Homo sapiens: one gene and its partner. The protein of the gene in region 2 purifies or fractionates together with the protein of the main gene of each other region. This does not show direct contact. Each region holds a gene or a part of one and is shown on either strand. Other genes may lie near its edges.

Region 1 (3,263 bases), on a different chromosome or scaffold from region 2:
AACCATGGACGAAAAACTGGCTATGGCACTTACTGAGAAATAAAATGGTGGCCTTCAACATGGTGCTTTTCTAGGCTGACCACATTTGAACCATATACTATTTGATGACTTTACCTAAGTTTTCCCACTTCCCAATAAAACCTAACTGCTGTTCCTTCTGCATAGTTATTGGTGTCCAGTTTGCTACTCAACTTTGCCTAGCATGTTAGACATCCGTTAGGTTATAAGTCCCTTTTAACTGTGATTAGTTAATGTTACAAACCATATTATTCCTTGTAAAAATCAAGTTAATATTGGTATTTCACAAATTTCAATAGAAAATGGCTATGCTCAAAAAATATTAAGTATTTTGTTTTTCTTTTGTTTCAGTTGGGAAGACGACTTGTCTTTCATTCAAAACCTCCATCTGGTAACAAACAGCAGCTACCTTTAGTCAATGAAACAAAAACAAAATCACAAGAGGAAGAATATTTTTTTACTTGAATAAAAGCAGTAAGACATTTTATTACCAGAATGTCTTAGGTGTATTTTGTAAATTTTAAGTCTTTAAGTATTCATATCATAAGTATTATTCCATATAGCTAAACACTTTCTTCTATACTTTGAGTTGTCCCACTTGGGGATACACAAAGATAGTTTACTGATAAAACTATGGTAAATGAACACTGAAGTGTAATAATGGCCATTCTCTTACAACATGAGAATGTAAATGATGTATTTTCTCAACCCATCTGTAGGGAAGTTCATAGCATACTGTTATTACTATGGACTATACATTTTAACAATGTACAACCCTAAAATACCTGAAGGGTTTTGAGGGGCTTAAAACTCAACCTCGAGGTTATGTCTCAGAACATAATGGGGAGACTGGTTTTTATTTGACATTACATTTTGTTCAGAGAACTTTTTTCTCTTCAGTGAACAAACCGTATGCCTTCAGCCTGAATGTCAGTTCCCAATTTCTGTTGTGCCCTGTCTGTACAATCATTTTAATTTTTAGAAGATGCTTCAATTTTAGCTGCAATATGTGCATTTAGCTTATATTGACACAGAATTAACATGTAATTTATTGACTACTAAGTAAAATAAGACAGTATATTATTAATACCAAGAAAATGTTTAATTTTATACGTTAAAAGTAGCTCAAAAATAACTTTAAAAGAAAAAGTTGCATTTAAAAGGTCTCAGCTAATAGATAATTTTACAAGAAAAGGTCTGAAATTCACCTTCATAAAAATATCTAAAGCATATAAATAATTATCCTTTATGGGAAAAAAAAGAATATTGGGCTTACAAAAGAAAAGCAACTTAAATGAAATTCAGTGGCTTTTAAAGCATTAGTTCAGTGAGTAATCTTTCCCAATTGGTTCATCATTTCAGCTTTGCTTGTAAATATCTGAATACAAATAGTTCACAAGTCAAGTTGAAAAACAAACAAATCTTTATTGTCTAGAAATATATATAAAAAAAATCCCCCACAAAAGATGCTATTCTCTCATTTCCCCATCTTCTTCCTCTTCTTCCACACCTCTGATATAAAGGACATTATTACACCTGTAAATAGAAAAAGTCGATTTTGTTGTTCCAACCAGAAACCATGTATGATATGAATTACTATATTTTTATTATGAAAATACTGAATACTATATTTATAATATTCTTGTCTTTAAAAAAATTTTTTAAATATATTCATTTTAAAAAAAAGTTTCACATAGATTTGTTGAAAAGCACATGGCACTTATTTTCCACCATATGGTTGTTATAAAATGACATCTTTATGATTTTCCAAAGGAAATAATTACCAGAATTTGGAGCTTTGAAGCTAGTACAGAAAATCAATATAACAAAACAGCCAGACCCAACTAAAATTCAAAACTAAGTTCCCGCAACAAAGGCCACTGCAAAAGGTTGCCACTGCAAAAGATTATAGCTAAGAGCTAGAAAATTAAACATCAACACTAGAAAAATCTTTTGGCCAGTTCCAAAACATTTGAAAACTTACCTTTGACAAGTTTAACAATTTCAAAGACTTCTGAAGTCTAACTGTAAAGTATTATAATAGTGATTTTTTAAAAAAAAGTAATTCCAAAATTGAGGCACTAATATATTTAGAACAGGTATTCCTAATGCTCACCAGTAACTCCTTACATATACTACTGCTGTTTGTTACCTTATTAAAACTTCACCCAGATGTCCAGACAAAGCTCCATCTATGTATTCTTCTGTATTTGCAAGCTTTCAATAAAAAGAAATATATTAGTATAATCACACAGGAGGAAAATATTACAATACAGCTAATATTGGTGAGAGAACTCATTAACTGAGACCTTTCTATACCAACAACTCAAATTTATCTATAATTAATAAACAGAAGATGAGCTTTCTATTACTATTGTAGTACTTTTGGTTTCATATAAACCTTCAACGAAATTAATATTCAAAGCTTGTTTCAACATAAGTTTCTGAATCTCCCAGGTTATGTAATATTTCTTTCTATTAGATATTAAAACAGTGTGTGGAAGAAGGCAGTCTCTAACTCATATTGAGGTGTCCAAATAGGTATACGAAAGCTATGGCTAACATGCCAAATACTTTTATATTAGTCAACAACCAAAGCAAATAATTGAGTAAGAATTTTCTTCTTTTCCTGTCTTTTAAGAAACAGGGTCTCCCTCTGTTGCCCAGGCTGGAATGCAGTGGCACAATCATAGCTGACCAAAACCTTGAACACCTGGGCTCCTCCTGCCTCAATCTCCTGAGCAGCTAGGACTAAAGGCATGTGCCACAAAGCCTGGCTACTTCGAAACAATTTTTTCTGTAGAGATGAGATCTTGCTATATTGCCCAAGCTGGTCTTGAATTTCTGCCTTCAAGTGATCCTCCTGCCTTGGCCTCCCAAAGTGCTGGGATTACAGGCATAAGCTATCACATCTGGGCCTGAATAAGAATTTTTAATTATGTACTAATAAACAGGGAAAAACAAGTTCTTAAGAGAAAGGTAAATAGTTAACAGTGACCTTTACAGCTATTTTGGTGAACTACAGCAAAGTAGTGTGTTTCCCTTATGGTATTATTATGAATCGAATGTCTGAGCTCTTCTTACTTTACCTACAGTTATTTTGGTGAATTATTTCTAATTTTATATCAAAATGTTTAGCTTTCCTTCTACATATAGGTAACAAGCTCTACTTGTAATTAAAAGAAAAATCACAATCAATGCCACTTGGGACTCAGAGAAGGAACTAAGGAGTGATGGGAGAGAGG
Region 2 (5,337 bases):
TTAGAAAAGGTGTTAGAAACAAACTGCATGGCAAAAAATGAGGTCATGACCGGCACAGCTGAATGTCTATGTCCCAGAGAAAACACCCAAAGGAAACCAGGTTGGTGGCGAGGGAAAACCCCTGTGGTTTGGACACTGAGTCTGAGATGCCTCTGAGGCAGGACATCAAGACAGCGTTCCGACAGCCAATGTCCAAAGAGTGCACCGCCAGATGTCTCTGTCACGCTTCTGCGTAAGCACCGTGAGGAAATCCTGCACTCCAGGATTTGGAGGAAAGGGATTCATCAAAGTTCACAGGTATAGGAGGAAAACCTGTCTTCTCACTAGAGTCATGTTCTGAGAAGTGCGTCGTTTGATGATGATGTCGATATGCCAACATGAGATGGCACTTCCACGAGCCTAGACAGCATACCTAACACTCCTGGGCTAGAGGGTGCGTCCCACTGCTCCGAGGCCAAGCGTGTTACTACACCAAATACTACAGCAATCCTAACACAATAGTAAGTATTTGTGCATCTAAACGTTATCAAAGCATAGAAAGGGTACAGTAAATAGACGGTATAATCTTTTTTTTTTTTAAGACAGATTTTTGCTTGTTGCCCAGGCTGGGTTGCAGTGAGCCGACGCGATCCCGGCTCACTGCAACCTCCGCCTTCTGGGTTCAGGAGATTCTCCTGCCTCAGTCTCCCGAGTAGCTGGGATTACAGACGCTCGCCACCACGCCCAGCTAATTTTTGTACTTTTAGTAGAGACAGGATTTCACCACGCTGGCCAGGCTGGTCTCGAACTCCTGACCTCATGATCCGCCTGCCTCGGCCTCCCAAAGTACTGGGATTACAGCGTGAGCCACAGTGCCTGGCAAAATATGATATAATCTTATAGGATCACCATCACATCCACGGTCCCCTGCTGAGTGAAACACTGCTATGCTGCCTGTGACTGTACAGTTTTCACTTTCAGAATAAAGAGCCACTGGAGGTTGACATCTGACCCTCTTATGAGTTTGGTTAATGGCAACAACACACCTGTCTTGTACTCCAATTCCTCCTCTATGTGGAGGGGATGGAACATCCTCAGCCCAAGGGTTGGGGACCTAAGGTTAGAGCCAGGACAGACCACTATCCCACAACCCACCACTTCAGCCTGTGACACCCAGCTGGGTTGTGGGAGCCCCTTAACTGTCCTCCCATGCAGGAGGAGCCCAAGGTACCAGGGGTCTCCCTTCCTGCCAACTTTTACCCTATGTTCTGCTGCTGAAAAGCCTAAACCAAAAACAGTGCTTGTGAAGTGGCAGGGGCTAAACAAATGAACTAACAACCCTGTTCCCCACAACACAGGCCTTAGGGAGACAGCAGGGTCCTGGGTATGACCTGGGAAGAATACAGAGGGTTTGGGAGAGGAGAGAGCCAAATGGTGGATGAGAGACTTACACATTTTAAGCTCTGTCTCCACTTCTTGCTGTCGCCGCTCAATCTTTTCCCGTCTCTGTCAGGAGAAAGGGGAGGTGGAGAAGTGAATGCAGATAGAAGTGCCCTAGTGTCAAGGATCATCTGGAGACAGTGGTAAAACAGGGGGTCAGGAAGCAAAAATGACATACTTTCCTCTCCATGCGCTCCTCTCGGGTTTCAGCACGAGTTGGAGGAGGGGCATCTCGAGGGTCCTGGGAACAAGAAGAGAGGTGACAGGGTGGGAAGGACTGGGGGAAATGGCAAGGGACACTCACCAAGGAAATAAACAGGTTAACCCTCCCACCCCCACCCCCTACAAAAATAAACATCCACGCACACTTCCCCTGACACAGTGGAGGGAGGGGAGTGGCACAGATCAAAGCAAGGTCTGCAGCCACGCACAGTGGCTTCCACTTGTAATCGCAGCACTTTGGGATGATGACACAGGGAGAATGCTTGAGCCTAGGGGTTTCAGACCAGCCTGGGACAACACAGTGAAACACCATCTCCACAAAAAATTTAAAAATTAGCCAGGTGTAAAGGCCGGGTGCAGTGCACACGCCTGTAATCCCAGCACTTTGGGAGGCCGAGGCAGGCGGATCATGAGGTCAGGAGATCCGAGACCATCCTGACTAACATGGTGAAACCCCACCTCTACTAAAAATACAAAAAATTAGCCGGGCGTGGTGGTGGGCGCCTGTAGTCCCAGCTACTCGGGAGGCTGAGGCAGGAGAATGGCATGAACCCAGGAGGCGGAGGTTGCAGTGAGCCGAGATCGCACCACTGCACTCCAGCCTGCACAACAGAGCAAGATTCCGTCTCAAAAAAAAAAAAAAAAAAAAAAAATCCTGTCTCAAAAACTAAGCATGGTCCATGGACCAGTACTATCTAAACTGTTGCTGGACTGTGATAAGTACAGAAACCAGGACTAAGTGTTCAGGAACTTCTACAGTAATTTCACAATTTGATGTCCACTGACTCTTAATACAAATTTGGTCTTTTATTCTGTAGGTCTTTTTTTTTTCTGAGACGAAGTTGTGGTCTGTTGCCCAGGCTGGTGTGCAATGGCGCGATCTGGGCTCACTGCAACCTCCGCTTCCCAGGTTCAAGCGATTCTAAGCCCTGCTTTCCCCCCTGTGCCCGTCTCTCTAAAAGGAACCCAGCAACTGACTAGAATCGTTCAAGCGGTTCTCCTGCCTAAGCCTCCTGAGTGAGTACCTGGGATTACAGGCACACGACAGCATGTTGGCTAGTTTTTGCATTTTTAGTAGAGACAGGGTTTCACCATGTTGGCCTGGCTGGTCTTGAACTCCTGACTGTAGATCTTTCTTTAAAAAGTAATTCTATCATATTTATCAAAAGCAAACAGATTGGAAACAGTATCTGTCCTTCACCAAAGACAGTTTGAAAAGCACTGGTACAGGTGACATCTAGCTTTATAGTATTTAGGAAACACCCTGTCTTCCATATTTAGGAAAGACATTGCTTCTCACAGCTCCAAGTATCACTCACATTGAACAAAGTGCCAGAGGATGTGATGGGAGTGGAGTGATGGCAGGGCCCTGCTTATGAGTGCCAGTGAGGATGACCAGGCCTAAAGCAACATAAGCTGACAGAACAGGGCTCCAAAGCCCACAACTGCACACCCTCTGAGGGCCAAGGCAGCTCTTAAAGGTCTCATCAACCACACATTAAATAGGAACTGGCTGGTAGGGTGCAGTGGCTCATGCCTGTAATCCCAGCACTTTGGGAGGCCAAGGCAGACAGATCACAAGGTCAGGAGTTTGAGACCATCCTGACCAACATGGTGAAACCCCGTCTTTACAAAAAATACAAAAATTAGCCAGGCATGGTAGCGCGTGCCTGTAATCCCAGCTACTCAGGAGGCTGAGGCAGGAGAATCCTTTGAACCCGGGAGGTGGAAGTTGCAGTGAGCCTAGATCACGCCACTGCACTCCAGCCTGGGCAACAGAGCGATACTCCATCTCAAAAAAAAAAAAAAAAGGTCGGGTGCGGTGGCTCACGTCTGTAATCCCAGCACTTTGGAAGGCCAAAGTGGGCAGATCACAAGGTCAGGAGATCAAGACCATCCTGGCTAACACGGTGAAACCCCATCTCTAAAAATACAAAAAATTAGCCAGGCGTGGTGGCGGGCACCTGTAGTCCCAGCTACTCGGGAGGCTGAGGCAGGAGAATGGCATGAACCCGGGAGGCGGAGCTTGCAGTGAGCCGAGATCACGCCACTGCACTCCAGCCTAGGCAACAGAGCGAGACTCCAAGTCAAAAAAAAAAAAAAAAAAAAAGTACCTGGCTCCCAGGCATGGTGGCTCACACCTGTAATCCCAGCACTCTGGGAGGCCAAGGGGGGTGGATCACCTGAGGTTAGGGGTTCGAAACCAGCCTGGCCTACATGGTGAAACCCCATCTCTACTAAAAATACAAAATTAGCCAGGCGTGGTGGTGCATGCCTGTAATCCCAGCTACTTGAGAGGCTGAGGCAGGAGAACTGCTTGAACCGGAGGCTGCAGTTGGCTAAAATCACGCCACTGCACTCCAGCCTGGGCAACAGAGCAAAACTGTCTCATAAATAAATAAATGGTAACTGGCACATGACCTGCATCATCAAAGGGCACCTACCACCCGCCTGTGCCCATTAAGTTAATTGGCCAGTAATATCTCTCAAGTGCGGGTTCACCAAGGGTGGCAAATCCCACTGAAGACATACCTTTCTGTTATCTACGAAATTCTGCTCTGCAACTCCCTCGCCTCCAGCTGCCCTTACCTACCCAATGCTAGAACGTTCTTCTTGTAACTTCCGACTGTGTGCCAGCTTTTCTCAGGTGTGCTCTGATGCACCTAAGAGATGACCCTTGTCATCCCATTTCACAAATAAAAACACAGAGGTCCAGGAGCCTAAGTCATTCATTCCTATTTATCCCAAAGGTGCAGAGCTAAGATCCCCATCTGCAGTTTTAAGCCCTCCAATACTCAATACTGGGTGCTAAGCCTTTATGAACATCATCTTATTAACAATAAAAGTAGTAAACAGAGTAACAAAGGCTGACATGTGCTGACTGCTTGGTGCCAAGCCCCCTGACATACAGTTTGCCATTTAATTCTCCACCAACATTATAAGGGTGCTACCACTATCCCCTTGCTAAAGATAAAGAAACCAATGCATTAAGAGGATACAACATTTGCCCAAAGTCAGAGCTGATAAATGGTGTGGGTTAGGCATGAATCCTCAACCACTACTCACTGAATTTTCACAAAAATTCTACAAAAGGTGTACTATCAACCCCACTTTTTTTTTTTTTTTTTTTTTGAGACAGTCTTGTTCTGTTGCTCAGGATGGAGTGCAGTGGCGCGATCTCGGCTCATTGCAACCTCCGCCTCCTGGGTTCAAGTGATTCCCGTGCCTCAGCCTCCCAAGTAGCTGGAATTACAGGCACCATGTCCGGCTAATTTTTGTTATTTTTAGCAGAGACGTGGTTTCACCATGTTGGCCAGGCTGGTCTTCAACTCCTCACCTCAAGTGATCCGCCTGCCTCGGTCTCCCAAAGTACTGGGATTACAGGCGTGAGCCACCGTACCGGGCCACAACCCCACTTAAAAAAAAAATTTTTTTTTTGAGAGACGAAGTCCTGCTCTGTCACCCAGGCCGGAGTATAGTGGCACAATCACAAAGCACTCCAGCCTCCGACTCCTGGGCTCAAGCAATCCTCCCACCTCAGCCTCCTGAGTAGCTGAGACTACAGACGCACTCGACCACACCCGACACCCGGCTCCAACCCCATTTAAAACAGAGAAACTGAGGATCACAAAGGTTAAGCCCCTCGCTTAAATCACGCAGCTGGCAAAATGGCCAGAAGCTGGACTCGCAAATCCA

The links. The genes of interacting proteins can lie anywhere in the genome.
Region 1: the proteins of SNRNP70 (region 2) and SNRPF purify together in Homo sapiens (affinity purification with mass spectrometry; 6 studies listed by BioGRID and IntAct, with this or other methods). This does not show direct contact.

The regions. Positions count from the first base shown.
Region 1 is NC_000012.12:95,864,296-95,867,558, reverse strand, and holds the end of SNRPF (small nuclear ribonucleoprotein F), read right to left. Parts: intron 2,236-3,263; coding exon 2,171-2,235; intron 1,555-2,170; coding exon 1,488-1,554; 3' UTR 1,419-1,487; downstream 1-1,418. Other genes in the region: CCDC38 (coiled-coil domain-containing protein 38), read left to right, coding at 370-483. UniProt on the Homo sapiens protein: Plays a role in pre-mRNA splicing as a core component of the spliceosomal U1, U2, U4 and U5 small nuclear ribonucleoproteins (snRNPs), the building blocks of the spliceosome.
Region 2 is NC_000019.10:49,086,614-49,091,950, reverse strand, and holds part of SNRNP70 (U1 small nuclear ribonucleoprotein 70 kDa), read right to left. Parts: intron 1,661-5,337; coding exon 1,598-1,660; intron 1,486-1,597; coding exon 1,431-1,485; intron 1-1,430. UniProt on the Homo sapiens protein: Component of the spliceosomal U1 snRNP, which is essential for recognition of the pre-mRNA 5' splice-site and the subsequent assembly of the spliceosome. SNRNP70 binds to the loop I region of U1-snRNA.